Regions from separate parts of the Homo sapiens genome. Here regions 2 and 3 are each linked to region 1. The links come from fine-mapping of genetic effects on gene expression. A gene starts in region 1. Each other region holds a variant in brackets. All regions are shown on one strand. Distances are from middle to middle. Region 1 holds the start of FAT1 (FAT atypical cadherin 1). Region 2 overlaps LOC102723906 (a long non-coding RNA gene). Region 3 has its middle 27 kb from the start of LINC02374.

The links.
Region 2: its variant is fine-mapped to the expression of FAT1 in sun-exposed skin (GTEx, PIP 0.96).
Region 3: its variant is fine-mapped to the expression of FAT1 in fibroblasts (GTEx, PIP 0.97).

The regions. Positions count from the first base shown.
Region 1 is chr4:186,719,537-186,730,426 of GRCh38, forward strand. FAT1 (FAT atypical cadherin 1) reads right to left here and starts at 4,320. Exons shown (of 27, transcript NM_005245.4): 1 at 4,128-4,320. RefSeq lists enhancers at 3,761-4,262, 4,763-5,762, 6,945-7,446.
Region 2 is chr4:186,913,586-186,924,475 of GRCh38, forward strand. The region is part of intron 1 of LOC102723906 (a long non-coding RNA gene); the gene reads left to right. Among named protein-coding and RNA genes, the nearest start is that of FAT1, 200 kb to the left of the region's middle. RefSeq lists an enhancer at 6,605-7,804. The variant A/G (reference allele first, on the strand shown) is at 5,825.
Region 3 is chr4:187,169,954-187,180,843 of GRCh38, forward strand. No RefSeq gene overlaps it. Among named protein-coding and RNA genes, the nearest start is that of LINC02374, 27 kb to the right of the region's middle. The variant G/A (reference allele first, on the strand shown) is at 6,361.

The DNA.
Region 1 (10,890 bases):
CCACTTCCCAAATCAACCAAGTTTGCAAACTAACAAATCAAACAAAAAGGAAGGGGTTGGGAGAACATCAAATGTGGAACCTAGCTCCAGCTTTGTCACTAATCAACTGTGTGAATTCAAGGAACTTGCTTAATCCTTTCGACTCTATGTATTCGAGAAATTGAAGGATGGACTAAAATCTTTACAGCCTCCTGGCTCTCAAACCTTCATTTCTCAAAAGTTATCCAAACTTGACATTTCTTTCTCAATTTCTCAAAATGGTTCCCTTTGCATTTCTGCTGCTACCACCTAGTTAGAATGGGTATTTTGTTCATGCAGAGTATTCCTACAGTCTTTTGGTATTCCTGCTTTCTGCCCCCAATCCCAGTCAACCTATTCAAACTTCTTTGTGATATTATTCTTTAGCTTGAAAATATTCAGTATTTCCCCTTAGCCTGCTAAGTATATGATTCTTAACCTTGCATTAAAGACCTTTGATAATCTAACCTCTAACTAATTTCCTAATTTCCCAACACTACTTCTTATTTCAAAACAAAAAGGCATACTTCCCAGACTTGCAACAAGTTCAGTAACCAAGCTGTCTTGAGCCAATAACACCACCTAGTGGTGAAGGCTCTAAAGTAATGTAACATCTTGACCTCTTCCCTTCCGAAAGATAATGCAAACATTACTATTTTCTTTGTTTCCTGCCCTCCACTCCTCACATACAGCTTATTTGTTTTCACCTTTCTCTTCAACGTTTCTTTCTTTTTCTCTCTCCTTAACCTCTGCCTCATAAAAACAATCCTCCCTTTTTTAATAAGATTATTTAAGTCATAGTCAAGATTCTCTATGTTCTACCTAGACAAAAAAAAGAAGCCAATCCTTTTCCTAAGATAACATGGTACGGTGAGGTCTTCAGAATTTCTCTCCACTCATCACACCACAAGCCACACTATGCTTTCTATAACTTGCTTTGCACACATCATTTCCTCTGCTTGAATTGTTCCCCTCTGATTCACACTTCCCTCAGAACTCACATTATCCTAAATCCACCTGCCCCAGATCCCCCAGCTCACTGAGGTGCTGCTATGGACCACCTTGACCTGAATGGATCTCTTATCACACTGGTCTATAAGAGACTGTGTACTTGTCCTCTCCCTTATCAGACTACGAGCTGCTTGAGGGCAGGAAACACGATTTGTTCAGCACTAGATGTTGTGTCTGGCCCAATGTTTGACACAGAGGAGGTCCACTATTGTTGGATTGGTAAATGGACAGATGAATAAAGCGTTAAGAGTGAGAAATGTGAGGCAGGACTGTGTTGGGGAGGGGATATAGAGAGGGATAACATAGGAAAATAAAACATCCATCCTTCTCAAATTAACAGAAAATCCAGGCACAACCACGAGGCTGGTAACAACACTGCAGGTGGCTGCTCTGTAGAGGACTCATTTCCAATAGCTCAGAAAGAGGTCACCACCCACCTTACGCTGCCTCAAAATTGGCTATAGATAATGCCAGATCAGTGTCTGTGTTGCAGATTATCACAAAGCTCTAACCTTAATATTCTATGAAGGATACAGATTAAATCATGACTAATATTTCCTAAGCAGTGTATAGAAGCCTTTATTATTTTTACTTTATAGACTTATCTTCACATACATAATGAACCCTTGGAATTAAGCAAGAATTCAGGCAATGTATTTAAATCTGGGACTTACAGTAAAAGATGACTTAAAAAACTTAAAAGAGTGAAATATGCAGATTCCTCATCAGAATATATTTTTGAAATGAAAAGTTCCCCTCAGGTATGAGAAAATGGCAACTTCCTGATCTTAACTGATGTATATCACTCATTTCAAAAACTCTTCTCCAGTGTCTAAGGATAAATAAGCACTTGCAAACTGAACAATTAAGTGAGACCAAAAGATAGAGTTTGGCTTCAACTTCTACATAATTTGGTCAAAAGAACAATTATCTAGCGCAAATCCCACTCATAAAGATTAAACAGCACATCCAGCCTTACGGCTCCCTGCTATTAAATCAGGTCCTTTAGGCTACAAATTATGCCACTGAGACAGAATCTAATGCAATAATAATGTACTAATTTGATTTGGCTGATTGATTCTACGTAAAATCAGCCAAACTTGGGTGGAAAGCAAGCGGGTAAAGTGTTAAAACATAATCTCTAAGATCCTATCCACCTCTAACATTCAAAGAAACGACTGCTTCAAAGGGACCTCAAAGCAAAGTCTAAAGGCAATGGAAAGGTAGAGGATGATCAGGGGAATGAAAACAGAATTAGTTTGTGCATAATTTTTAAAGATTTTTCTTCTCTTCTTTTTCTTTTCTTTTTTTTCCCCAGGCTGAATTGCAATGGCACGATCTCGGCTTACCACAACCTCCGCCTCCCGGGTTGAAGCGATTCTCCTGCCTCAGCCTCCCAAGTAGCTGGGATTACAGGCATGCACCACCACACTCCGCTAATTTTGTATTTTTAGTAGAGACGGGGTTTCTCCATGTTGGTCAGGTTGGTCTCGGACCCCCGACCTCCGGTGATCCGCCCGCCTCGACCTCCCATAGGGCTGGGTTTACAGGCGTGAGGCACTACGCCCGGCCATAATTTTTAAACATTTTTCTGTTGGCACCTGTCCGGACCATGGATTTAAATGATCTACTAACATGATGAGAACCCAACGGGGATACTTCAAAAGAGACAAATGAATATACAGGTGGCCCGAAATGATTTTATAAAGTCCTCTAACAACCACACTTCTTTCCAGAGTGCCAAAGAATTTGGCTCATTTAAGGTGTTCATTTTTCAAAAAATGGTTATACAAATGCAAACTTCATTCAAATCAAACCTTACCTTGAGCTTGTTAAATGCCATGTTTAGCATCACTCAAGGCTTATACCAATTGTTGTTTTAAAAAATTACATAGTGCTTTAAGTATTTTTACATCTTAAATACAAAGGAATAATTCTAACTGTGGAATCAGAGCTGTCTTCCTAAGACAAAAAGACAAAGACAAATATCACAATTAACTATTAACTGGAGAAACACCTTTTCAAACGTCCCTGTAACAACTGGATGTGTTGGACAGCATAACCAAACTCATTAAGAATAGTGTGAAAAACATCACCATTACCTAGTTCTCACACACAGATACCTTCTTAAACTATCGAAACCTGTATCTGAATATACGAAGCATTAAGAATCTGCTTTTGAAAAGGAAATGAATATCTGAAGGTCATTTTCTTTTCAATCTTTTCTCATACTAATAATCACTGTTAATATCCACTTTTAAAAAATCGCCTCTATCAGGCACCCGGGAATTGCTTAACAAAAGCCACTTAATGAAACCACAGTTCAGACAAAAAAAAAAACTTAACTGCATAGAAAATATTTATGAGTTTACTTTCCTAACTCATACAATTGCGTCCTTGTTTCCAAAGCCTTGCAATTCACATCAGCGGGAACAAAAAAATCTAACACACAGCAGAAAGCTGGCTCTCTAAAAGAAAGCATTTTTTTTTAAAGGCAATGAAGGACCAAAAACTCTTTCTTTTAAAAAGATCTTAGAAGTTCCTCCTCCAGAGAAGACAGAAAACACTGACAAACCGCACATTGTGCAGATGTTCAGCCCCGAAATGCAGCCTCGCAGCCCTTCACTCCGCAGTCCACCGGTTGCATCTGCACCTCCGGGCAGCGCTCCTGCAGGGCGCAAACACCCAGAGACCCAGGGACCCGGCAGCCCCGCGCAGGCCTCCCGCGTGCACCGCTCAGCGAGCGGGTCTTTCGCAGACGGCGGGATGCCCCAGGAGACCGCGAGGCCGGCGCAGCCCGGCGAGCTCCCGGAGGGAAGGCGGCGTGTCAGAAAGGATCGGACCCCAGCAATGGCCCCGGATCGGTCCCGCGCGGTCGCCTCCTTTTCCCGCTCCGCCGCCGGGACCCCCCTAGCCAGTGCTGAATTTCCCAACTGGGAAGGACCGAGTCACTCCACCCTCCGGGAAGTCGCGCGCTCATCCGTTTTCGGCAGCGCCGGAGCCCGAGCCGGGGACCGGGCGGACACCCACAGAGTCCGCACCGCAGCGCGCTGCACGCTCTCGCCCCCGCCCGCCGGCCCGCGCCCCAGCGAACTAACCGCAAAGTTGGCCCGAAGTGGCGACGGCGCTCTCGTGGAGCTCACCCGCCGTCTCAGCGCGCCCCCGAGCAGGGACCGGGCCTGCCGGGGCCCTCGCCGGGCTCGCGCGTCCGCATGGTACCTGCCGCACGAGCCGCTCCCGCGCCCTCTCCCCGCGCCCGGCCGCCCAGCTCGGCGCCGGCGCCTCACGCTCCCCGAGCGCAGGAGATCCCTCCGCCCCGGCCCCGCCCGCCGGCGCCGGCGCTCATTTCTCGGGCGCGGAAACTCGAGCCCACTTTCCCCGGCTGCCGGCTCTGGGACCGCGGGCTCGGCCACGCAGTCCCGCCCGGACCCAAAGAGCCCCAGTCCCTGCGAACACCAGGTCCGTGCTGGGAGACGAGAAGGCGCCCAGCGGGGTCTAGCGCGGCTCCGAGGGGCAGGGCGAGGCTTGTGATGCCGAGGTTAGTTACGGCCAGCCACAGGCGCTGTGCAAGGAATTGGGGAAAGCTCCCTGCCAAGAAAGGGAAACGTTAGCTTAGCTAAAAAAAAAAAAAAAAAAAAAAGGCTGGGGCCTAATGAGAAAGCTTCCCAGAGGCATCCCTTTAGCTTTTCCATAGCCTTCTGGGAGCCCCTGAATCTGCATTTGAATGGCGCGGCTCTGGGTCCGCGAAGGTTTGGTGGGCTGAAGTCGTCCTTCAGGTCTCCAAAGGAATGCAGCTAGGTCGGAATCTACTTCCTCCTTCAATCCCCAGAAAATGGAAACGCTTCCCCCGCGACCTTTTTCTGCCGAGTTAGACCCCAGGCCCTCCCCGCCGCGGGCGCCTGGCCTCCCCCGCTGACACCCCGGACGCCCAGGCCTGTGGGACAAAAGGCAGTCGCGGCGTCCCGCGGGCTTCCTAGCCCGGGAGTCGGCCCCAGGGGCCCCAAAGCGTGACCCCAGGCCGACAACTGCAAGTTCCTAGGCAGAGGGGAAGCCCCAGCGCCGAGAAGCCCGCTCCGAGAACTCCCCGCGCCGGGCGCCCAGCCTGAGCGTCCCGGGCGCGGAGCCCATCCCCGGTGCGGGCAGGGCTCCAGCCGCAGGCTCGGCGCAGGGCGGACTCGGCCGAAGCCCGGAGGGCCGGAGGCGCTGGGACGCAGCCCGGACAAGAGGGCGGACTTGATCTCGGAAAGTTTGTGGGACTCAGGCATTTTAACACTGGGAAGACAAAGAGATCCGATTTCCCTGGGACTGGTGAGGGGAGCTTGGCGGGGAGGGGAACGGCAGGGCAGTCAAGTGTGAAAGAGAATTTCCTGGGTTCAAAGTTAACGCAGTCACCTTATAAGCCATCTTAGAGGTGACCGGAAAAAATAATAATAATAAAGGTGTCTAGCAGGTTGTGGCTGGGAAGGAAAAATAATGCCTGCAAGATGAGTGTGCCGATTCGTAGCCCTATATTCCCTGCCCACCAGTTGGAATACACATAGATTCACACATCCAGCAAATGCAAACTCCATCATCCAAAGACGTGTTTGTCCCGGCCATAATTGCTCCAAGTGCTTACAGGTCAATTTCATACATGGAACACCTCGAAAGTGGGTGACCTGATCTCCAAGCCCAACCGGCTTGTGCCGCTTGCCGAATTGTAAATCTCAGCAAAACCCAAACACACCGGAACTCCAGCCGTTTCCTGGGAGCGAGGAAGCGGGAGTAATGCTAAAAGGGGAAAAGAAGAACAGTAAAAAAAGTACAAAGATACCATTCCCTGACGTAAAATCACGGGATTTTTTTTAAATGGCACAAGAGAATTCCTGGAGAAGATTACCATTAATTAATAAGTAATAACGCTTCCTAGGGCTTACTAGATGTTTTACATCTGTCTGGGAATCCCGATTTTCCAGGCTCCCTGAGAAATCTATCTGCCTGGAAGAAGTTGCACTTCGTCGCCACAGGAGCCGCCGAGAGCCAGGGATGGAGATTTCAGACTTAGGACTCTGCCACGATTCTACTGATCCTTAAGCGCCAACAGAACGAAATGGACATGCCTATTAGCTACCACAAATCGAATTATTTTATATGAGAGAGAGAAATGTGGTTCAAGTTCCACATTTGTCCTTTAAATAATCGACCCTCCCTAACCCTGTCCCCAAAGGCTCGTGGAAATTAGGGAGGGGGTTGGGGAGACGGTTCCAGAAACAAAACGCTTTCCTCCAGCACGGCCTCTACATCCAGTCCACCCAAGCTGATTTTTGTAACTCATATAAAGAATGGGCCCGGGTGGGTGGTCAGTGAAGACTGGGGTGAGCAAGCGCCCACGTCGCCGAGCGCCGGGGAGGTCCAGGTTCGCCTCCGCACAGAACCCTGCAAGGAGCGCGCCTCGCCAGGTGCCCGGACTAGAGGGCGCTGCGCCCCTGCAAATCTCGCGGCCCCGATGCGCCCTCCCTAGGCACCATTGCTATAATAAGTTACATTCAAAATAATGCACAAACAGCATCGCCTCTCAAGTTCTTTTTAACAGTGCTCTATATGTATTTTATGAACTCCCAAAGCTATGCATACGAATCTTTCATCGCCGATCCGCACAAAGCCAGAGGGATGCGCAGCTCCTGGAGCCGAGAACCCGTAGGGCGCACACGCTTCCCCGCACTCGCTTAGAGCCACACACCCCACGTAATTTCATTAACGTTTAAACTTAAATGCCAAAAGGCATGCACGATTTGAACAAAGAACTCACCAGTCTAGCCGAGTCCTCGGCCCTGGGCTCTAAAGTCCTCGGCAGCTCCGTGATCCCCTCGCGGTGTAGATATGTGTTAAGAGCCGGGTTTGAAGTACCAACTTTGCCTCCCCGGGATCTTCAGCATGTCCCTAACCAGAGTGCCAACGTCCGTGCCGCCGGGACCCAGGCGGCCGCATCTCCGGAGGCTTCCGACCAGGGCAAACTTAAGCACCAAACGCAGGCGAAAAGAGAGTGCGCGGGGCCGGAACGAGGGCCCGGGAGCAGCCAAGTTTGTCAGGACGTGCCCAGGCAGCCAGCCGCCGAGTTGAGGAGTTGCGGCCGCCGGCTGCGGCGACTCGCTGCCTCTTTCCCCACTCCCTCCCCCTTGGAGGCGGTGGGGGAGGGGAGGTGACGTCAGCGCCCCGCCTCGCCCCCCGCCCCGGGCGCGGACGGGATTCTCCGGCTGGGCGCGCCACCCCGACAGTGGCAGCAGCGGCCGTGGAGGCTGCGGGGGTCCCGGCCTCTGCGGTCTCTCTGGCCGGCCGCAGCTGTGGCGCGGGTGAAACGCCCGCCCTCCTCCTTCGGCTGCGTCTCCCGGGCGCCGGCGAGCGCGGGCGTTCCTCGCACTCAGCGCCTGGAGCCGCCTGGAGCCCCGCTGCGCGCACTTCCCCGGCTCGCGGAGCCCCTCCGGCGGCGTTTCCCACGCCGCGGACTGCAGGTGATGCTCTTCCTCTTCTGCAGCCGAAATTCGTCGCGATGTGTCGCCTGCCAGATTTTTGCTGGGCGGAAGCATGAACAGTCTCTGCAGACTGGCCTGGACGACTTGTACTTTGTGGCCCTCCAACTTCTGGATGTGAATTTTTTTTCACGACTTATTATTATGCTCTTCGTGGTCTTTGTGTTGAAAATCACGGAGCTGTATTTTTATTTTCAAATTCTTTCCCAATGCTCCTCTTGTCTTGACCGTACTCTGAAGCTTATAAGGTTCTGAGAGGAGGGGGCGAAGGGATAGGGGAGGAGCCAGTTCCTAATGTGTCTTACAAGTCATCCCTAGTGATAGGGGCTAATACGCAAATCACTGTCTCCTCCTCGAAATAATATCCATTTAGATAAATGCAAACACTGTTGAGGTTTAATTTATAAAGAATGCGTCGTCTTTATGTAAGTGTCCAGCCTCCAGGAAAATATCTGCTGTGGAATATATTTTTAATGCCACTAAAGTACCAAAATACCTCCCCGAACAGCGTGAAATTCCGAGGGAGCCATTTCTGTGAGTTGACATTGTCCCCAGAAGATTGTCATTAACATTCAAGATCCTTGCAAAAGGGGGCTGGGGGCGGTTCTATCATATTTGCATCCGTTGGTATAAATATGTTGATCAGTTTAGCTGGTCGTTCTTTTACAAAGGTCAAGAGCAAAATTCTGAGCACAGAGGAAACTGGGCAGGGAGCTAAACAGTAAGGAGAGAACAAGATTAGGTGATTGGAATGTTGTGTGTGTTTAGCCTTGAAGTCATAACTTGTCTAAATGTCAGTGTCCTCATCTGTGATATGGGACTAATATCTGCTTCATGTGGTAAAAATGTATTCATGTGTTTATCCATTCAAAAAAAAAACATACTGCACTCTACTTGCCAGGGAGATAACAGTTATTCATGCAGGCAAAGCATTTTTACTGAGCATCATATGAAGTGTCTAGCACGCACATAGTAGGTACTTAAACAATATTAGTTTTCCTGCCCTCCCCCGCTCCCTTCCCTCACTTCTTGGCAGTGTCTCAGTTTTTAATCCATAAAATCAGCATCATCACCACTGATTGGAGATTCTGCCAGGCAGGTCTCCAGACTCAAGTCAGGTCTCCTGGGCTCAAGAGATCCTCCTGCCCAAGCCTCTCCCTCAAGGTACATTTTGATTTGGAAGGGAGGAGAGGATCCAGGGAGCTAGGACACGGAGGGATATAGGAAGGGATTTTAGAGCTCCTGCAGACCCCGAGGGCAGCTAGAGGGTGCCAGATTCCTAAGGAGGGAGGAGGCTGGCTTGAGAGGCCAGTCTGTCAGTGCCCAGCGGACTTCTCCTGCTTCCCTGTTTCAACTACACAGGCTCTCTCCTTTTGTGTCAATAGTTGAAATTAGAAATTGACCACATATTGCAAGTCCTCAAAATGATTCACAATAAATTCACCCCGAGAGGCTTCTCGCTGAAGTCCATTTGGTTTGCTATACTCACTTTAAAGTTGTAATAAATAAACCAAATTACTTAAAAAAGATAAAAATCACAAATGACAGGAACTTATGAATAACAATTGATGATATTAGTCAAAATAGCTGGTTTTCAAAGTGAGATGGGCAGAAAACTTTTAACAGAACCTCTAGAGCTGTGCTAATGTAGTGGGCAGCCACTTGCCCCCTGTGGCTACTTCCAGTTAAACTAAATTAAAAGGCACTTCCTGAGTCTCACCAGCTGCATTCCGAGTTTCAGTGACCATGTGTGGCTAGTGACAATTGTATTGATCGCAGCAGATCAAAGAACATTTTCGTCATGACAGAGTTCCACTGGACACCTTGGTCTAGACCTTTAAAAACACTGCTATTTTATGGAAGGCTACATCAAGCATTAAAATTTCAGTGTGTCCAATACTGAGTCACCTCTGAAGTATAAGGGAGGACCCAGAATCATGGAAGGATTCATTCATTCAGCAAATATTTATCAAGTACCAACAATATGCTGGGTGAAAATATGTAAGACCCAAGATTTAATGAGGTAGGTGTGTTTAGTGATTAAGAAATATTAACATGGCCTTTTAGTTGTTTTCCGTCTTTGCTGACTCATAAAACCAGGGGAAATCATAGATTTAAAGCAGGAAACAATTCTGAGACATTTTTTGGAATAGCCCTAGGACCAAATACTTCTAAGTAGGCTTGACTGACTCCTGGCATCCCACCCTCTCTGCTGCTTTCACTGCTTTCTCATCTGCCTGTGTGCCCATTGCGGCCTCCCCTTCCTGGAGGTGAGAGGAAATATCAGCCCTCTCCACTTCCCCTGCACCTTGGAATTATTTTACCCTTTGCATTCAAATACAGCTCTTCTCCGGAATCAGCTTGTACTCTCAGAGGGAGCCATTAGAACATTAGACACCTGGCTGGGCACGGTGGCTCATGCCTGTAATCCCAACACTTTGGTAGTCTGAGGCGGGTGGATCACCTGAGGGAAAGGGTTTGATACCAGCCTGGCTAATATGGTGAAACCCCGTCTCTACTAAAAATACAAAAATTAGCTGGGCATGGTGGCGGGTGCCTGTAATCCCAGCTACTCGGGAGGCTGAGGCAGGAGAATCACTTGAACCCGGGAGGCAGAGGTTGCAGTGAGCTGAGATGGCGCCATTGCACTCCAGCCTGGTGACAGAGCGAGACTCCATCTCAAAAAAAAAGAACATTAGACACCTAGTCAATCTGATGGGAATCAGTGCTGGTTAACTATGGGTATGAGTATGTTATAATAATATCCTTCCACCCTTCCCAGTGCCTTATAGCAAGGGCTTTCTTAAAGCTATAGTTAAAACATGAAATTTCTGATGCCATAACCAGTCACTTGGGAAAGTATTTGGAGGTATTACAAATCACCTACTAATGGCTAACCATTAAAAAAAAAAGGTACAAAGTATACTTTCATTTTAAAGACACACCCATAGTGGAGTAGGGTGGCCGTAGACATTCTGTCCCTCAAATATAAGATAAACATCCCCAGGTGGTTTGGGAACAGATATTGCAAGATAAATATAATTTTTGTGATGCTTTACCAGCTCAGTGATTGAAAGATTCTAACCTTTTGAACAGTAGGCAACAAGTCATCTGGCAACTTACTATTGAAGCTACTTTCTCAATAGAAGTATGCAGTAGAAAGAGCATTACACTTGAGGTTAGAAGACCTGTTTTGACCTGTTTTGAATCTTGTCTTTGACATATATAGTTTGAATTTATTTGGTTATAACTGAATTTTGGGAATCTCACTTTCCTCTATAAAGATAGATCTCTAAAATGGACACACACACACAAAATCTCCCTCACTGGTTGTGAGAGATACCAGTAAAGAATA
Region 2 (10,890 bases), 190 kb after region 1:
TTTGGACTTGCCTACAGAAAAAGGATGGCAGAACGAACGTGATTATCTGGGGAATTCAGACCTCAAAACTACTTTTTAACAGAAATATCCACAAGCTACATATTTTTTTCTTTAAGAAATACCCTAGAAAGCACCCTCAGTTGTCAAGTTCCGTCTCCTTGTGGGACTCCTTATACCAAGAACTCCACGTGGAAGGGAACAAACAGGGTGTCTGATGTGAGATGAAATCTCCAGGGCCACACAAGGGGCCTCATATTGCCCCTGGCCTGCTCACTTGTTTTTCTTGTTTGTTGCTTGCATCAGGTGACTTTCTACAAACCACAGGGCTGTGTTTGCACCTGTACTTCCTGAGAAGCCCATGTTCATCTTTTGTAAAAGTGCTGGTGAATTATTTCCTTAAAAGTCTTCTGGGTGGGTGCAGTGGCTCACACCTGTCATCCAGCACTTTGAGGAGGCTGAGGTGGGATGATTGTTTGAGGTCAGGAGTTCGAGACCAGCCTGGGCAATATGATGAAACCTCATCTCTACTAAAAATACAAAAATTAGCCAGTGCGGTGGCACATGCCTGTAATCCCAGCTACTCGGGAGGCTGAGGTGGGAGGATTGCTTGAGCCTGGGGGGTTAAGGCTGCCGTGAGCTGAGATAGCGCCACTGCACTCTAGCCTAGGTGATAGAGTAAGACTCCGTCTCAACAAATAAAATAAATTAAAAATCAGCCAGGTGTGATGGTGTATGTCTGTAGTCCCAGCTACTAGGGAGGCCAAGATGAGAGAATCACTTGATCCCAGGAGTTTGAGGCTACAGTAAGCTGCAATGGCATCACTGCACTCCAGCTTGCGCGAAAGAGCAAGACTCTGTCTCAAGAAAAAAAAAAAAAGTTTTCTGTTAGGTTATCTTTTCCCTAATGTACACCATAAATATGTTTGCATGAACTGGAGGAAAATATGTGGGTACAGAAAAATAGGACAAAAGAGGAAAGAGCTGTTGCACTTCATATATCATGTATGACATGCTGTGAAGTGGAGGAAAGGACTGACCTGAAGAGTTTGAACTTAATGGGCACAAAATACAATTTCTGTTTATATTTTAAGAAGGTGTCTGCTCTATAATGGGTAATATGTATACTATCTAGTTTAGTACTCACTAATAGCTATGATGAAAACCGCCTTGGTTGACTTAACCTCTTTAAGTCTCAGTTTTTTCATCCAGAAACTGGGAATAACAATGACCTCATAGCATCACTGTGAGAAATTAGTGACACGCAGGACACAAACATCCTAATGAAGGAGCTGTTAGTTTATACTTTTAAGATGACACCTATTATAAAAATAAATATTTCTAACTATGTTAAACTCTCTAAATTAACTAAATTGCTTTTCAGCAGATTTCCCTGACATTGCAGGTATTTAGGAGATTGTTTAAAAGCTAGACACCAGTTTTGAGACATCTAGAGGACAGTGTTATATTTTGCAGCCAATTATGTTCATGCCATCAGTGCAAGGCAGATCTGAGGTCTTCCTTGGTAGGTGGGGCATGTTACTAGGATTTTCTTCTGCAAATTCTGATCCTACCTGCCAGAAATCTTTCATCTGCTGGCCTTTATTATGCTAGTAGAAGCTGTTGTTTACTCAAACCCACTGTCCTGCTGAACACTGGAAGTCTTTGCTGTGGCCGTCTTTGCTGCAGGGATACCTCAGTGTGCTTCTCTTCCACGCTCACATCTCTGGTCATCATTGGTAAATGTCCCTTGAACTTCGTTGTTACATGACTTCCTGTTGTAGGTGGCTTTATCTGTCTTGTTCACAGCACACACTCAGAAAAAAGTGGTATTTTCATTGAGTGCATGCACTTACGATGATGACCCTATTGAGAATACCTGACTTTCAAATTAGAGAATGTCTAGGAACTTGACTTAGGCAGGTCTCCAGGATCCAAGAAAGAGTGTTCGATCCTCTAATTCAGTGCTTTTCAAGGAGATTTTCAGCAGTTCCCTAGATGTGTTCTTTGGGATCTGAGAGTTCTCTACCAGCATTTTTCAATGTTTTTGTTTTGATGTTACCCTAAGCAAATTAGCAGAAGCATATTTTGCATGATCTTGATGGCCGCTTTATAACTGAGCCGCATTTCCAACCTGCTTCTGGGTTTGTGTTTAAAACTGACCTGGTGCTAACATGAGAGCATGTAGCTTTTGCTGTGCTGGGAAGCATGCTGGTTGCTTTTGAAGTGGCATGAAATAACAATAGCCATGAGGGTCCACCATTATCCTGATGGGAAATTCTTTTTGTAGTTGACGAGACAAAAGTAAACTCCTCTTTGGGATTAAAATTGGCAGTTAGAAGTACCTTCATTCTTAATGAGCTAGTAAGAAAATAATTCAAGTTGACCTAATTCGTAAAGAATGCCGTCACACCAAATGAAAGCCAGGCAGGTGTCATGGAGCATGAGGTTTCCATAGCAGGCTGAATATTCCAAGTTAAAGACAAAAGTAAGCAATGGCCAGAAATTTTGACTCATGCTCAGATTATCTATGGATTATATGAATGAACGATAACTAGCATTTATTCATTTCCCTCAGTGATTTGATGGTGAAATTGTTGCTGGACTAGACATTCTTTTTAATGTCTGCAAGAATTAAAAACTAATTTCAGATGTTATTTTCAAAATAGATTCCAACAGTAATTGAAATTGGTTTACATTTGCAGATTTCAATAATTCTACAATACTTTTCTTATCTTTTTAAAAGATAACTTAAAAGTTTTTTTAGATTATTTTTCTTTAGAAGTTTCTAGCATACTAAGTTTGAGAACTGCTGCTTGTGCCAAAGATAGGAATAAACCAACTAAAGGGGACCCTCTGTCCCTTACTTAATTTTGTGGTTTAAAATTGTGGAGCCTTCAGAAATATCTCTTTCTCTGTATTTCCTATTTTTTGGCATAGAATAATTCTTTTCTTAAAATAAAGACTTCTACAATAGGGAAAGAATGAGAGGATATCCCATATACTCTGGAGGAAGGATTTAGGGGATTAAACACAGACTTTTGAGAATAAATCGGCTATCAGTCCTCAGAGTAAGACCTATTTCCTAGCAAGTGTGAGCTGGGAAGAAGCCTGTCAGAGACCTTGTCACCTCCTGAAATAGCCCATGATCAGAGACACCCATCTGTGACTTTATATCATCATACAGTAAGTTGCTGATAGCAAAGCTTGAATTAGAGCTGCCTGTAATTTAGTCATAGCTATCAAATTTACTTCTGGTAATAATTTTGTAAATTTTATTGTTATCTTGTATTTTACAGTTATCTCTGAAGTAATTTATGTCTAATAGCATAATTTTAACGTAATTAATTACATGGGAATTTAAAGATTCATAGTAAAACAATTTACAGTAGTTTTAACAATCTGTTCCAATTTTTAGCCCTTATATTTTATCGTGAATAAAATATGAACATGTCTATGAACATGTCCATACTTTTTAATAAGAAAACGACCTTTAACTTTGTATCATGGTGGAATTTGTAAAAGCTATTGATAGTTTTGTTCAGACAGAAATTTAAGAATTATAGTAAATAGTTATGATTTGGTTGGATTAAAAATTCTGTAAGATCTGATCTTAGAATCTTAATCTTGCCAATGATGAAGATTCTAAGTGATGGTGAGGAGTTGTCTGGGAATAGCTGTATGTCATAACAAGCTAAGTTTGTTTATAAAGCATGGTAGAGCTCAAAGGGAAAGCTTTTATGAAATCTGGCTCTAGCACTTTTTGTCAAAATAAATCAATGAACACAGAAGAAATGAAAGGATCCCTCTGTGTGGTATACTTCCTGCATCATTTGCTTTGCTTTTCCTATTTTTCTCTTTTCTTCTTTCAACTTTTCTATGCATTCTGCTGCCCCAAAGTGCCACCTTTGTGTGCTTTTATGAATAATTTGTCCTCTTTCCAAAGCAGGTAGAAGACTCTCATGTATTCAAAATATTTTAATTGAGTATCAAAGTATTTATTGAGTATACTCAATATATTGAGTAACACATAATAGACACTCAATATCTATTGAGTTATGAGCATCCATGTGTTAGAAAGTACAGACATCAACTAAAGAACCCATAGTTCATAGTTCCTGTCTTCAAGGAGCTCAGCGTATCATGAGAGAAAGAGGCACATAAGAGACCCATTGCATGTGGCAGAGAGGTGGCAACTCTGAGCTCTATCTATGGGAGCACCAAGGACAATACTGCTCACTGGGCCTTGGGAAACCAGGCAAGGCTTCACACTGGATACTGCATTGGACCTCACCTTCTTGGATATACAAGAATTTGGCAAACACACAAAACAGGCGGGGGATTTCATCCAAAGAGAGGTTTACAGGATGTACAAAAGCATGGACTTTTGAAAGTTTGTGATGTGTCCTGGGAAGTCAATGTGGCACAGTAATTTTGTCCTTTCTTCATTCCACAAGCAAGAGAGATGAGACCAAGAAGGGAGATAAGAATACGCATCTTATCTTATTTTTCTTTTTTTTTTTTTTTTTTTTGAGACAGAGTCTCGCTGTGTCGCCCAGGCCGGAGTGCAGTGGCACGATCTCGGTTCACTGCAACCTCCGCCTCCTGGGTTCACGCCATTCTCCTGCCTCAGCCTCCTAAGTAGCTGGGACTACAGGTTATCTTATTTTTCTAAAAATCACATTTAGGGAGGTAATGTAAACAGAAAGCGAAAGTAAAGAGAAGGGTGGCCAATGACTGGACACAGCAGAAACAAAGAAACGAAAAGGACTTTTATTATTGAATGGGAGTTGTAACTGAGATTTATTGAATCCTTGCTATGTAGCAAATACTGCCCTAAACATTTTATTTATTATTTTTTAAATCCTCACTCTTTTAATAAGTACCACTCAATTAATAGTTATTATTAATTTATTTAATTTACGGAAGGCCAATGAGGATCCAAGAAATGAGGTCTCTTGCCTCCCTCCTCACATATTTGAGATGATGCTGTAAGTGGCAGAATCAAAATTTATGTAACTCTGTAAATGGAGTAGGGAGGCAAAGCATGCTGGCCACCACAAATGCAAAACAACACCAAGGAAACCAAGAACAACAACATAAACTTTCTCTAGCAGAGCTCAGATGTATTGGTTCAAAGGAGGCCTGGTTGAAGTCGTTGTAAAGTGTTATGATGAGGTCACAGTAGACCAAGTTCTTCCACCCTTAAGGTTTTGGTTAGAGAGGCATAAAAGCATTCGAGTTTTATAGTGATATTTGCCCAATGGAAAACTCTTCCCTAGTGGGGGTGATATTAGTTATGGTCTGTGATAAGGGCCCTTGGAGGAAATAAAAGGAAATGTATGCACAAGGTCACGCACTGTCATCTTTTGGCATTACTAGTCTCTTCTCTTTTTAGAAATTTTATTCTAAAAAAGAATTATTCTTTCAGTCACATTAGATCTCTTTGTTATTCTCCAAGTCACCTTTTCTCTTGTGCTTGTCCTTGGTAAGCAGTATATGTTAATAAGAACACACTCCTTCAGCTGCACCTCTAAGATGTGTAGACTTACGGGATGCGAGGAGGGGCTGGAAGTACGGGAATGAGGATGGCACTTCTGGATGATGGGAGATGGCCAGGGAACCAAGCAGAGGGGAGCAAGTGTCTCATTCTCTACTGGAGCAGGGAACAAACAGGCAGCTAGAGGACCCGAAACGTGGGAGGTTGTCCCTAGTGTTAAGAGGGGTGACTTAATTATGTTTTTTCTTAGTTCAAAGGATGTTTCTTTTAAGTTTAGGCTGAAAGTATAGAGTCTCCTGTATTGGTAGGAAGCCCAATATTGTATCA[A/G]TTTGAGATCTAGGTTTGCTGGCGTCACATACCGTACACGCCCAGGGCGTGAACCAGGCCTTTGCGGCCAAGTTCTAGGGGGCTTTGGAGACCCGGAACCTCCCGAATGTCAGCGAGAGGCAGGCGCCAGCCGCTCTGCCCAGGCCTGCCCCGCGCTGCACATGATTCAGTGGGTTGGGGTGAGGTAGGGTGTGGAAGCAACACAGGAATGGGTCACGAATAGCAAATAGTCTCTTTCCAAAAGGAGATCATGTACAGACATTGTACTGGGTCTTTGGGAATGCCGCAGGGGATCCTGCGGGAACAGCGAGAAAGAGGGAGAGAGGGGCTCGCAGTTACAAAAGAAGGTTCGGGTGGCGTTAGGAGGCGGCAGGGACGTAGCTATGCAGGCCGTGCAAAGTAATGATGCAGATGTGTGTGCCGCGATGTCTTAAGCGTAATTAAAGGTGGACTTCCGCGTTTTCTCAGATTCTTGGTGGTCCAAACAGAAAGGTTAAACAAAACAATTTACATGACTTTTACTATTTATAAAAGGAAATACACCAGGATGTCAAATGTTAAAATCACTTTTCATCACAGTTCAAACTGAAACAAAGCAGGAAGAGGCAAAAACTGCTCAGAGAGGGAGATCAACTAGCGTAGGTGCTTCAAGATACCCCTGTTTTTCTGGCATTTTAGAAATCTTCTAAAGGGATTTTTCTCAGAGTTTGAAAACAATACTGTGTTTCCAAGAATGCTAGGAAATTTACTTTAAAAAACACTCAGAAATGTTTTAAAAGATTCCTAACAATCACATTCTGTATATATCGTCAAATCTGATTTTACTAGACTCTGACATTTTGGTTACATTAAGGAATCATCCACAATAAAAATATACCATAGATAATGGATTCATAACCACATGGTTTCCATTTGTTAGTGTTAGTGTACGGAACAAGTGCAGAACAGATAAGGAAAATATACATCTGTGAGGGGGGAATTCTTTTCATGATGCCTGTCACATTCTGAAATGGAATGCAGTTAATTTCTCTCCTTCCTCAGCTCGGTAAGTTTATTTTCTTAGAATCTATTCTCTGAGTTAGAACTAGCTCTGATTAAGTGCTATATTGGAAGCAGCTCAGTGTAGAGCCATGGCTAAAATAGTTGGAAATTATATCCATAGAAAATTCAAATCTGAGAATTAAAAGCAACAACAACTGTAAAGTACTATGGATCACTGAGAAAGTGTGTATTCATTTTTGTCTAATGATGAAATGATCCAGCTGCAGGAAGAGTCCACAGAGGACATGCCCGGGCAAAGGCCTTTCATTTTACAATTCACATGGAAAGAAATGTGATGAGACCCTGAAAGACAGCTCTGGTTTCATCTGGACCACAATTTAGTTAATGCTATATTACATTGCACTTTGTAGTGAAATGCAAAAATAAAAGGCACATTTTGTTGGGCTTTAAAAACAATTTTTACACGGACATTCATCGGAAGGTTTCAAAACTTTGATGATTTAAATGCTTTTCTTTTGAGCTATAATAGAAATCTGATAGTACAATTAACCCAGATTTGTGCTGGCTTGCTTCATCCCATCAAACAATCATAGGGATTATTTACATTTCGAGTGGGAACATAAATATCTTAAGAAATAGACAAAACAATATGCCCCTTTTTATTGTGAAGTCTAACTCACCTTCATAAAAGTCAACGTATTGAAATATCAATCAATCCAGCAATTGCTTTTTGTTATGTGCCGCAGTATGGATCCTCAGGGACTCCAGACCGTGTGAGCAACTAACAGGAAACAACACCAGATGTGCTGTATCAGCCATTGATTTTCATCCCTGATGAATTCAGGTAAAATTGCATCACTGAAATCACTCAAACTACTCTGAAGCCATTTTTAAAAGGCAGCTCTGTTCAGGTTTGTTGGTTTTAAGTATCAACTTATGTGCACATGCACAGAGGTCCAAAAGGTTAAGCATCTTACGGCTTCTAGGAACTTCATAACATCATCCAGCTTCTCAAGGAATGGTTTTCCTACACAAGAAGAAATCATAAAATGTAGTCATCTGTAAATATGAGAATTAATCTGTTAAGATTCATAAGTTTATTTTCTTTTGTTATAAAATCAAGGAAAAATGACATGCATCACGAATACTGTCAGCAAGAGATACATTTTAGGGTAGGGAATAAATGACTTTGAAAAAGTTATACTACTTTCCTTGGTTTGTAGTGATCGAGTGCAGGAAATGCTTCCCCAAAATATGGCACCTTGGGATCCTGAGTGTTTTAAGCTGAAGGATAATGAGAAACCCCAGATTCTAGGAAGGTCACTCTCTTACCTTCTCCTGCCTTTCTCCTCTGAGGCCATGAAGAGAGTTCTCTGACCTACGTCCCCTGGAAGAAGGCCGATAAGACCCTCACTCCAGATGGGTCCTGCCCTATCCTCAGAGGCCAAGAGGAATCTGAATAAATAGCCCTTGCTAAACCCCCCAGTTAATGACTGTTTGCTCATACCCACTATTTGTTCCGTCATCCTCCTACAGGCCGTCTATTCTCCATCAAACCTAAGCATAAAAATACAGTTTTCCCTGGGTCTCTGGGTCTTTACTTCTGAAGGTGTCCCTGTAACATACAACTTTGGTTAGATACGTTTTTTACGTGTTTCTGTTGTTGATCTGTGTTTTGTTACAGGGGTCTCAGTCATGAACCTTACAATGGGTAAGGAAAAGATACTACTTTTTCTTCCCTACAGTAAATTTTGAACCTTGGATTTAAACAAAAATTTATAAAATAATATGTTTGATTTGCTTTTGAGATTATATATATATATATATATATATATATATATATTTATAGGCAAATAAGACTGACTATTAGTATGAAATATTTATCTTGTCAGATTTTTATACACTTGCAAACACATTTGTAATTTTTTCTGTTAGTACTTTTAACGGAACAGAAAAACAATAGAATACTCAGGGACTTCCCACTTTTGTTGTGTATTTGTTTATGCTTTAACCTTATAATAATTTCAAATTACATTACTAGTTTCTCTTTATTTTTACAAAATCATCTTCTGGACAATTCTTTAATTTGAAGACCTTAAATTTTATGCTAGACAGCTTCCCCCAAGAAGTTCAGTTTTAATATATATTTCACAGTAGTCTGGACTAGGAAAAGAAGTTGCAGGCTATCATGCAATTTCCAGCTCCTTTTGCTACCTTTCCTTCCTTTTGTTACATTCTACTTTCTTTACACAGCCTCTGTAAGCACAGCAGGTCCTCATGGTCTAACTACCAGCTTCTACAAAGCATGTGACACCAATTTTCCAGCACCGAGGAAGCTATAACTTAGTGAACACTCATTCACCCACTGAGGAGCTTGCAGATGAAATGATATTGCACATGCTATGTCTTAGAGGGAGGCACAGAGCTGGACAGGAAGGACGATGCAGACAATCGCCTCTTCATATTGATTTGAGTCTTCACTAACATCAATCCCCATTCACAGATCCTAACTCAGAGCAGCGGGAAAAAAAATTGGAACTACCCAATGTCTACTCTAAAGTGCTCTCAGGAAAAATTCCTTCCTGATTTCACATTTTGGCAGACCATTAAATATAGGAACGCGATTCACCAGAGTCAAGCATATACTTCCTACTGCTGTGAGACTGGACTTCAGAATAAAGAAATAACTTTTTTTTTTTTTTTTCTGAGATGGAGTCTCACTCTGTCCCCCAGACTAGAGTGCAGTGGCATGATCTCGGCTCACTGCAACCTCTGCCTTTCAGGTTCAAGCAATTCTCCTGTCTCAGCCTCCCAAGTAGCTGGGACTATAGACACCTGCACCACGCCTGACTACTTTTTGTATTTTTAGTAGAGACGGGGTTTCACCATGTTGGCCAGGCAGGTCTCGAACTCCTGACCTCAGGTGATCTGCCTGCCTCGGCCTCCCAAAGTGCTGGGATTACAGGCGTGAGCCACTGCGCCTGGCTGAGAAAGAACTTTTAAGAATCAGTTACTTCATATTTTACCCTATATTGTACTTCTAGACTTGATAATGTCATGTAATAAACTCCAACAATTCTTCATTTAACTTTGTCTTCCAGGTACACCCAAAGGAATAATTCCTTTGGAGGTGAGATTTTCACCTTATGACTGTGGAATTTTAAAGTTCTCTGTAAAAACATCCTATAGGTTGTGCAGTTTTGTATATTTTTTAGGATTAATTATTTCCAATCAAAGTATATGTAGAAAGTGTACAAAAATGTAGCCAACTTACTAATATTCTATCTTGAAGAACACTCTTATGAAGGTTATGTATTTGGTTCGTACTAGGATTAGAGCTTATGTTTGTATGTTGCCAGAGAGAGGGTGCTATGAGTTTTTACACTATGGAGTTGGAAGTATAGTAATTTCATTGTATTTACCAAAGCAAAAGAAGATGATGACAATGATAAAGAGGAAGATGAAGAAGGGTGGAAATAAATCAAATCTGCTAATACCTTTACTTCAGTGTGAGGATGTTTTCAACAAAATTCTACTTTCCAGATAATTATCTGAATTATCCACTTTAAATTGTAAGTAAATTTAATAAGTTGAGTTCAAATTAATGTTTTTTAAATCAGCCACTAGGATAAACCTTTTTACTTTAATATATGATTTATGCCCAGTTTATTCCATGTAAAAATTTAAGTTTCTAGGCCAAAAAATGAAACTTATAACTGCTTCCCATATAATCACTCTCAAAAGTGATTTCTGCTATTTATCAATTGAACGTGTTTCTTTCCAGTTTGTATTTAAATCTTGTGCTTATGACATGCAATGACAAATCCAATTAGCTGATTTTTCTATAGGTGAAGAAAACCCTGGTTACTTCCAACTATGTGGATGATATGTTAGTGCAATTTGTCTCAACAAAAATGGCAAAAAAGAAAACAGCCTTCTGAGTAGAGTAGAATACTTTTATTTGGTAGTTGCTGACCTGCCTTTATAGTTTACATCACCTTTTACTTAGGTTTGTGACTTGACAGATAGTGAACCTGAGAGAGAGAGAGGGAGCAGGCAACAAG
Region 3 (10,890 bases), 450 kb after region 1:
CAAGATGATAAAATGAAATTAACCATCACATCATCCTTCTCTGGAAGGTTATCCTGCATAATTGCATAGGTGGTGGCAGGGAGCTGTAGGCTTCCATTGTCCTTATGGTTTAGCAACCCCAGCAAGAGAAAGGGAGTGAGTGCCTCTCTTCTGATCATCTCACCAGAGTTCCTGGTCTGACCTGTTCACGTGTCTAAATCAAGAACTGGGGCAGGGGCCTGGGGTTTACTGATGGGGCAGGCTGCTGTCTCTCCTCTATTGCTGCTAGAGAGAAGTGGTCCATCAGCCCCAGCATAGGTCTGGGGAACACTTTCCTCATTGAAAAGGGCGTAGTCCCAGAGGAGGGATGTGGGGAGCCCGCTGGGCAGGCAAAGGACTCCCTCCTGTCATCTCTTCAGAGCAAACTGTGGTGCATGAGGCAGGTCCAGCCCACTGCCTATTTTTGTATGGCTCATGAACTAAGACTGGGTTTTCCATTTTTCAATCAGTAAAAGAAAATCAGAAGAATGATATTCCTTGACACACAGAAATTATCTGAAATATAAGTTCTGTGTCCAGAAATGAAATTTTATTGGAACACACTTGTGCCCACTTATGACGCTTTCTCTAAACGGCCGATTTCACATTGCACAGCAGAGCTGAGGGCTTGTCAGACACAGCCTGGCCCGAAGAGCCTAAAATATTTACTATCTCGTCCTCCACAGAGAAGCATGGCTGGCTGTGTTATCACATTGCAACCGCAACTGGAATTTATAATACTAGGTATTTTCAATTCAATTTGGAAGCATATGTTTAGACACATGCATATTTGTTTATTTATTCTAAAACTGATTCCTCATGGAGAGTATCAACAATTTCAATCGTGGAGAAGGTTACAAACTGAAATGCTAAATTTCTTTCCATTTCCATCTCCAAGTCCTTCTTTCTAGATGTAATTCCTTTCACCATTTTTTTAATTTTAATTTTTTTGGTGGCTATAAGCCCTAATTCAATATTATGCTTTCACTTGTTTCCTGGTTGACCAGCATTAAACATCAGCTACATGCTATAACAGATGGGAAATTTAGTTCCTATTCTTTCCTCCTTACAGTTTCTTACAGAACATTTTAAAAATTCAAGTTTATATATTAGTTATATTTATAACATCATATAATATATACTTAACTCTATTTTTGACCTATGGAATTTAGAAATATGCCTTGTCCTCTTGCTCAGTAAAGAAAGAAATTTTGGGCTCTGCTTTGTCTTCCAGCTTCTGCTGTTTTGACTTTAAATTTTGACGATTAATGGCAGTTATGCTCTGTTCTGTAAAATTAATCTCACACTCTTGATCTCCAAGTTGAATTAAATTTTCATCTTATTCAGTGATTGACAAACGCATTTTATCTCAAGATGCATATCTTTTTTACAGCTATTACTTTGATTATTGCTTCCCATCATTTTTGTTCTCTTTCTCTTTAATTCCTATTGGATGTGTTTCCTTGCAATGATATTCTAAACTCTAAAATTTTTCTTGTTCTCTTCTTTCCTTTGGGGCATTTCCTTTACTTTTATTTCACATACTTTTATTTATTCTTTAATTTCCATAATCTTTAAAAAAGTGTTTACTGCTTCTTTTTATAGAAGCCTAGTACGGTTTTCTTGTGTGTCTGTCAGAGTTGATCTCCTCTTGTTGAGTCTCTTTGAGGTTACTGCTGGCATTATTTTAATGGTCTCCTCTTTTCCCTCAATTAGCTGTGTTTCCTGCAGTGGGGTTGTTCTGTTTCTCTCCCGTGGTTCTTCTCGTTTGTGTTACTGCTGTACTGCTGTTCCTTAAGTGTCTGCTGACCTGCAGCTGTCCCTTCAAATGTGTACGCCTGGTTCGGGTAACACAGCTCCTTGCACTGCAGCTTCCTCCAGCATTTTCTGAGTGGTAGCTCGCTCTGTTCTAACTTGTTCACTAATGTAAAAATAATAATAGAAAGTAGGGATCCAGTGCTTACAATGTAGCAGACGCTATTCAAAGCAGTTTAGATGAATCATTGGATTTAATCCTCATGAAAATCCTAGCCAATAGGCCTTACTATCATTCCCATTGTACAGATGAGGAAACTGACGCACAGAGAGGTTAGGTAAGTTGTCTAAAGTCACACAGCTTGTGAGTGGCAGATCCAGGTCCTAACCCACGCAGTCTCGCTTGAGCAACCGTACTCCTTCCTCTTGTGTGCTGAGCTATATTGATCTGATTCGTGGGCACTTCCAGAATTTAAAAAATCTTCAGCCTGCTGATGTCATCCTGCAAGTTCTTGCAATTTTTATTTTGTCTTAATTGACTCCATGTGGTACGTTAAAACTGTTGTTTAAATTTTTTTTTTTTAGTAGGAAGGGCCATAAATATGTGTGCCCAGTTTACTGTCCTGGTGAAAGTCTCAGCTGGGCTTACTGTGTTCTTATCATTGTGTTGATCACCCTGAGGGAAGTGGGAGGGGTGGAGGAGGAGAGACAGTGCCAGATTCCCAGGGGGAACTTTCAGTGGCGGGATAGGCTGATGGACAAACGTCATATTGCTCCACTGTTCTTTATTTTCTCTATCTTCTTCTGCGTTCTGTCTGCCCTCCCTTCTGTCTTAGCGGTTCCCATACAGCCTTCAAAACCAATCTCCTCCAAGAAGCCTTTGCTAATTCTCCAGCCTGAGTTTTGGGCTCTGTGCTTTTCCTGTGCCTAGTGCACGCCTCTATTACACACCCTCTAAAAATGCACTCTCTCATGGCCTCCCCGAGAGTCTCAGCACATGCAGGGCAGGGAAGTGCTACCGCCCATGCCCAGCAAGCAAAGGCCTGGCCTTTAGCCATTGTCCATTTTTTTTTTTTCCAGATGAGTGAGTGAAAGCAACTAATATAAAAGGGGTCGATTTCTTATTTCCAAATACTTTGCAGGAATGGGGTTTATTCAGATAAATAAGATATCTAGTCGTATTGATACAAATCCGGCTGGGCTGTGGCTGAGAAAGTGATCACACATGAAATTCTCCGGTTGTCCTCTGAGTTCTATGCAGTATGGCTGGACCCCTAGGTTTCTGAGTCCAGCCATCTGTGTTATATTGTTGAGTTACAGAAGACTGCATTGCCAAACCAATCTTTTCTTTTTTCTTTTTTCTTTTTTTTTGAGATGGAGTCTCGCTCTGTTGCCCAGGCTGGAGTGCAATGGCACTATCTTGGCTCACTGCAACCTTCGCCTCCCAGGTTCAAGCAATTCTCCTGCCTCAGCCTCCCGAGTAGCTGGGACTACAGGCACCTGTCACCATGCCTGGCTAATTTTTGTATATTTAGTAGAGACGAGGTTTCACCATATTGGCCAGGCTGGTCTCAAACTCCTGACCTTGTGATCCACCCATCTCGGCCTCCCAAAGTGCTGGGATTACAGGCATGTGCCACCACGCCCTGACCAAACCAATCTTTTCTTAAGTTGCTATTTTGCATGATTTTTTTATCTTGGGAGAAATTTTAAAACATAGTCATGAATGACTGAAAACATGATCTGAATGCTATCAATAATAAAACCTGAAAAGGGAGACAAATTGGTTAGTGTTTTAGAGAAACTGAATTGGTTCTGGTTTCTGAGCTTTGCGAAATAGGCCTATACCAGCCTTCAAATTGGCTACCGAGACTTTCCTTGAACCTCCAGCTCTACGACACTGGACATATGAAATAGGCATGTGACATCTGTGGCACTAGCTCGACACCCTGTTTTATGACTATGTCTTTAGATCTATTTCTATCTCTAGACCGATGGCACCAACTCAGTGCCTTTTGTCATTGCAACAACCCCCTCAGTGCTCCTCCATCCTTCAGCCTCACTCTCTCCTCCAGGGTACTCTCCACGTTGCCTGCAAATTCAGCTTTCCAAGCACAGAATCCATCGTGTGATTCCCTTTTCACGCATTACATTCTTAGAATAAAGTCCAGACGTCGCTGCGATGCACCTGAGCCCTCCCAGTCTTGCCCGGTAAAGCTTTCCACTCTCCTCTCTGGTAGTTTCCTGTGGCTGCTGTAACAAACGACTACACACTCAGTGGCTTAAAACAACACAGATCGCAATCTTGCAGTTTGGTAGCTCGGACATGTGATGTGGATCAGGATCTTGTGGTTCTGTAGCTCAAACACATGATGTGGGTCTCACTGGGCTGAAATCAAGGTGTTCTCAGGGCTGCATGTCATTCTGGAGTCTTGAGAAAAAAATCCATTTCCTGGTCTTCTCCTGCTCCTCCGGGGCTGCCTGCATTCCCCGGCTTGGGGCCCCTTCTTCCATTGTCAAAGCCAGCAATGCAGGTCAGTCCTTCTCACATCACATCTCTCTGGCTTCTTCTGCCTCCTTCTTCTACTTACAAGGACCGTCCTGATTATGCTAGGCTGCCCAGATAATCTCCCTATATTTGGGTTAGCTTATAGCAACTCTACTTCCCCTTATGAAACATAACATTTTCATAGGTTCCAGGTCTGGCCCATGGACACAAATGGGGGACCTTACTCTGCCTAACACAATGATACCTCTTGCTACCATGTATTCCTTGCTCTAGTCAAACTAGAAAACCTGCTGCTGTTGCTCAGAGCATCATTCATATTTACACTTCCCTTGTGCTCACATTGCTCTCTATGTCTGAATTATACCTTCCTCCCATTCTCTATATATTCTCAAATGTCATTTTCTCCAAAGCCTTTTCTAAGTGGCCCAGGCAGCAATGCTCCTACCTCTACCATCCCATGCTACTTGTTTATATAGTTATCCCCATTATCCTTGGGGAATAGGTCCCAAGACCCCTCGTGCATTCCTAAAACTGCAGATAGTATCAAACCTATACATACTATATCTTCTTGTATACATACATACCTAGGATAAGGTTTAACAATAAAATAATAAATAGAACAATTATAACAATATAATGTAATAAAAGTTATGCACATGTGATCTCACTCTCGGTTGCCTGCCAATAACTGAAAGGCCAGCAAGTGAAACTGCCGAAGAGGGGAGCTGCTATACCACCCACTCCAGGCTGACGGCACTGTGTGCTAGGCTGCCATTCCCATCCCACGTCAATTCCCGGAACTTGCCTTCACTTAATCATTTTTGCATCTTCTCTAATGGCCACCAAAAATTGTGCACATACAAGGAGCTCGAAAATACGTGTGGCCAGGCACATCCCTGCAGTCCCAGCTACTGAAAAGGTTGAGGCAGGGCGGTGGCTTGAGCCCAGGAGCTCGAGTTCAGCCTGGGCAACACAGTGAGACACTCGTCTCTAAAATTTTTTTAAACGTGCTATATGGAATGGATTTTTAAATGTATGATGTCTCTGGGAGGGAATTATGATCTTCATTTAAATAGTTAAGCTCCTTCTGGTGAATTCTATTTATGGTTCAGAAGTTCTATGTATTGGACAGTTCCATAAATTGCTGCCACTAGGGGATGGGTGGAAAGGAAGCAAAGCTGAAGGCAAGGTTTTCGGTCATGAAGGACCTGCCTATTGTGTGTCTCCAGTATTTCCTTGCAGAGGCTGAAAGACGAGCCTCCACGTAACCCTGAAGCACTCAGAGTCTCTTCAGCATTACCCCTGGGTTTGCATTCTATGTGAAAACCTATGAAGTTAATTTTCTTTTTTTTTTTTTAATTTTTTCTTTTCATTGCACAAGAATAAGAAGTTACTTTTCTCATTTGGGAGAACATTCCATTTTTTTGTCTTAACACCAGACTGGTATGTTTTGGGTTTCCAAGAGAGATTTTTGAAATTATTCTACCATTATGATTGATATATATTTTTAAAATGAAGATATAATAAACAGGCACTTATGATAACAGTTGTTAGTATCTTTTAGTAATTTTTTAAAAACATAAGTTCCCAAAGAACAGGCCATTTTTCTTCTTCTCAAAAATATGAAACATTAAACAAGGATTATTTCTACTCGTTGGAGTATTTAAATACAGCTATTCAGGTAAACATTCATAATCCCTCGTCACACAGATGAGAATGATTCTCAGAAGGCTTGAAGGCCTTTCCCTTAGTCTCAGAACAGGTGGGCTGATATCCAATCTCAGGTCTTTCTAGCTTACAAGCACCTGCTATTTTAGGTATGATGATCCTGTGTCCTAACATCATACATAGAAAAGACTCTGCATTTGCTTTCAAAATTAATTATTCTGAATATTACTGAAAATTCTTATGTGATGAAGTACAAAATGTATAATATTTGGAATATGGAGTTATGTAGATCTGAGTAAGTTGCTCAACCTTTTTGAATTTCAGTCTGTTACGAAAAATTAGAAATTAGAACCCTACCTCTCCATTGGGTAAAGATTAAAAAACATAAATCAGTTAATTTATTTCATTAT[G/A]TTTTATTTCCTACTGAATAGTTTGAAGACATCAGAGACTCTGGTGCCATAAAATCCCCTGCTCAGAAGCAGCATCCCCCACATATTACGAATGAGAACACCAGATGTCCTTCAGTATACAAACATCTGTGGGCTGTCACATCCTCACGGGCAAATCACTGTATCACGTGAACACATAACGGACTGACGGGATCCCTGAAGCGAATTGTTTATAACGAAGAAAGAGAAGAGAGTGATTGGGAGCCTGGAGCCCTGGTGCTTGGAGGAAGCGGATTTTCCTGGGACTGGCACCTGAGTGTCTTGTATCGGTCACGGAGGAGTCAGGACAGAGGGGTCATGGAAGAGGCTGGCGGGGCCGGGAAGGTGCTCTGCCCCCGTCTCGGGGTCCAGGGCCGTCCACTCCGCCCGTGGCTGCCGCCCGTGGCTGGCTCTCTGCGGAGCAGCCAGCGCCCGGTGGAACAGGGCTTTCTGGAAGGTGGCTGCTCTCTGACCATGTCCTCGGTGCCAGCCGGGTCAGGGGCTGCTGTCCACACTTCCCACTTAAGCCAGTATTTAAGACAGAGGGAGAAGGGAGGAGAAATGAGGGACAGAGGGGAGAGGTTTACATGGGGCAGTTGCTCCCGAGGAAAAAGAAAAGGGGTCCCCAGGCTGTCTCCCATGGCGTCCTTCCTGGTGCCCACCCTCTATGCCCTACCTGCAACCCCACGTGCGCATGAGAGGACGGACGTCTCTTCCAGCCTGAAGGGAAAGTGCAGACTTTCCGCATCTGCCTTGCAGCCGTATGTTGTAGAAAATGCCAGCAGGTAATTTGCTAAAAGTTGCCTGAGGAGTTCTCCATGGCCCAGTGGTTTCTATCTGCGAGCTGTGCTCCTCTTGCAGACGGACTGTCTTTCAGTAATTTGCAGCTATGTCATTTTTTTAACTTGTAATATATTGTATCATAGAAAAAAAGTCAGGCTCTGACTATCACTTTAAAAGCCTATTTCATCCACGACGTGGCAAAAATTCCCCTTTTTTTCATTTATTTTCTTTTTCAGTCATTTCAAAAAATAAATTATATAACATTTAAAATATTTTAATGTTTCCCATTTTGTTTGTCATGCAATCAGTTGCTAACAAAGTTATGAATAACATGATGCTCTTCGGTATATGAATGTATTCTTCAGTAAACACTGTTGAGCCCTACTCTGTGCCAGGCATCGTTCCCTGCTATTTCGGAGCTCACTTGAAAGGCACTATTGAGAGTCCTTGCCTCGCCCCCAACTTCCCCCACCACACACAGATTAGAGTGAACAGGCTTTACATTTTTTTTTTATAATAAACAATCTATGAACAAACATATGAACCTTGGTATCTCAATAGCAAATTATATTGCTGCTTCTATGTAAAAATATAGCTTTTCCCATGAAAACAAACAGAGGAATGTGCAAGAAATCTGACAGGAACTTCTTCTGGCTATTTTACCCTTGTTACTGTAGAAACTCCTTATGCTACGCTATTTTTATTGTGGTTATTTTGGCTGAAGTGTCCTCAGGAAACAACTCAGATTCAATGTGATCAGAACATTTGCTTTCTCCTGTTGCTAGAGCCATAGTGGTTTCACCTGGCATTTTTCTTTTTTAAGAGATGGGGTCGCCTAGGCTGGAGTGGAGTCACACCATCTTGGCTCACTGCAGCCTCAACCTCCCAGCCTCAAGCAATCCTCCCGCCTCAGCCTCCCGAGTAGCTGGGACTTACAGGCACACATCACCATACCCGGCTAACTTTTAAAAAATTGTTTGTAGAGATGGGGATCTCACTATGTTGCCCAGGCTGGTCTTGAACTTCTGGACTCTAGCCTCCCCACCCTCCCAAAGTGCTGGGATTACAGGCATGAGCCACGGCCCCTGGCCAACTTCCCATTTTACAGAGAAGGAAGGTAGGGCCCGTGAAATGAAGTGAATTGCTCAGCATGGTGCAGCGGTCATGGACAGATGAGGCTGCAGTCCAGCCCTGCTGAACTTTCCCGTGCACTGCAGTGTCTGTGACCTTCCACTTGCCACTCTGCAGTGCTCGTGGGGCTTCCAGGCCAATAGCTCTTTTGCTGGGAAAACAGCCGGTTGCATATGCTGAAACTATTGCAAGGACAATTTGGTAAAATCTTGAAGACCTTAACCAAAATAGTACTAGTAAATGAGGCTCAAACTCTCCCCATCCATCAAATTGGAAGCTTTTTCATTAAGGCTACTACTGAACTTTCTTTATTCAGGAAACCTAATCAGCAATAAAAACCCGACTGATCAGTGCAATATGAATTTTACTGCTGTGTGGAGACACGGTTTTATTTTGCCGTCAGGAAAAGTGAGATCTGACTGGGGAATGAGTGACTCTATAATCCTTCCTGCATCATTCCTGCTGGTCATGAAGGCGCCAATCCAAAGACTGCGTCCTCTTAGATGGGATCTGATTTTTAAACATTTCCTGGATGTCTTATTTTCCTTAGATCCTAGATCTGACATAACCCTAATGCATCTTGCATATTTTTTGGCTCCCTAATAGTTTCTGAGAAATTCCATTCCATTTTTATTTTTTTTGGCTGAAGCTGTGGAAAGACAAAAAGAGGGGGAGGGGAGACAGACGGACATTTAGAAAGTGTATTTTAAATTGCAAATTCAGATTGCTAGGCTGCGTTTGTACATGGAGAAGGAAGGGAGGAATGAATCAATAATTCAATGTTAAAACTGGAATCCTGCTTCAATTATGTGACTATTTTAACCAGAGTTATTTCAATCTGACCATCGATAATGATTCCATCTCCTCCTAGTCCTGAGCCTAGAAGTTAGCTGGGCCTTCACCTGTTCAAAGGGCAGGGTCCTCAGCGTGTTCCCTTCCTCTGGGGCCCTAGATCCTCAGATGGCTTCCTTTGCACTTGATCCAAGTCCACTCACTCTCACACCAGTGGGTCAGAAAATTAGGCTCATTTCTTTTGGAAGCAGTTGTTTCCCACGGCGTAGACATATGCTATGAATTTCACAGTTCGTTTTCTATCAAGATATTTCTAAACAGCTCTTCTTTTATTCATATGCTTGTCTACTGGGGAAATCACATGGTCACACCATATTGGTGGAAATTGTTGCTGAGGGGAATAAAACTTGATTTCAAATTTTGAAAGATAAATTGGACTATCTAATTAGCCTTGGTCAATGCAAAATCTTTGACTAGGAAAGTAACATTTTCTTCTGATCTGGAGCAGAGAAACAGGTTTTTAAATCAGTGGGAACAAGAGAGGGGAAAGACTTCCAAGTGTGTCCAGAGAAGAAGCAGATTTGTTTTACACAATCAGTCTGCAGGGAGAACCTCTGAGAACAGACATGATCATCTCCAGAGACTTTTAAGTTACTCACAGCCAAGTGGAACATAAGGGCTTCTTATTCAGGAAAGGCACTTAACCATCTTCTAATATAATAAACAGACAGGGACATTTTAGCGTTTTACCAAAGAGAAGTAAGTAAACGTAACCGTACCTAACTCTGTAATCTGAGCTGATCTGATGTGTACCATGTGACTGTAACATTGGAAGCTGCAAGGGGACCCTTGCAAAATGCGGGTAATGAGAGTCACCTCTGAATGAATGAGCAAGTCTGGGGAAGCAAACCCAAGCACTGAAACGTTTAGTGAATGGAAAGGGCCTATGCATGCCCTTCACAAAGTTAGAATTGTGGACTAAAATTAGAGTTGAATAGAGTAAACCTAAGCTTTGGAAGATTTTTGATATTGTGACTTTTTTTGTGTGTGCTACAAAAGCAGCAGTAAGAGCAATAAAAAAACCATTTCCCTTCTCTGTAGAATCACACCATATTAAGAACATATAAAAACTGTGCTATCAAATTAAAGTGTAAAACTAAGCAACTGGGATTTAGAAATATCATCCAGGAGTTTGAATTTTTAACTAGAAATTAGCTCTAAAGAAGTAAACTGTAAATGAGACAACTGGTATTGAAAAGTCTTTTCAGGGAGTCAGAAGAATTTAACCCTAGTTCCATCTCTATTAAATAGTTTGTTTTGTGATTTTTGTCACTCCACTTAATCTTTTTAGGTCCAGGTTTCCTTATCTACAAAATGAGGGCATTAGACCCCGTGCCTTCCAGCTTCAGTATTTCTCTGATTTTGGAAATTTTAGATCAGGCAGATATTGGTTCAAATTTAGAGAATCTGACATAAAAACTTTTGTAGGAGAATAGGGTAGGAAGATTGGCCTAAATTATTCAGAAATCTGCCTTACTATTATACATCATTTTAAACCCATGAAGAGTAAGAAATTGTTATGAATTATTTAACAAAACAAATTTGTATTTAAAATAATTTTGCTGAGTACTGGTGTAAACAGGCTATCTGCTAAATAGGGGATAATGACAAATACTCTGCATTTTTACAGATATTGAAAGGTGGAAATGTTCTCTCCAACACACTAAAGAGTAATCAAAGGAACTGATCCTAAAACTATGTGTTGTACAAGCAAAGGTAAGGGGTCAGCGCTGTCGTTTCTGCAGT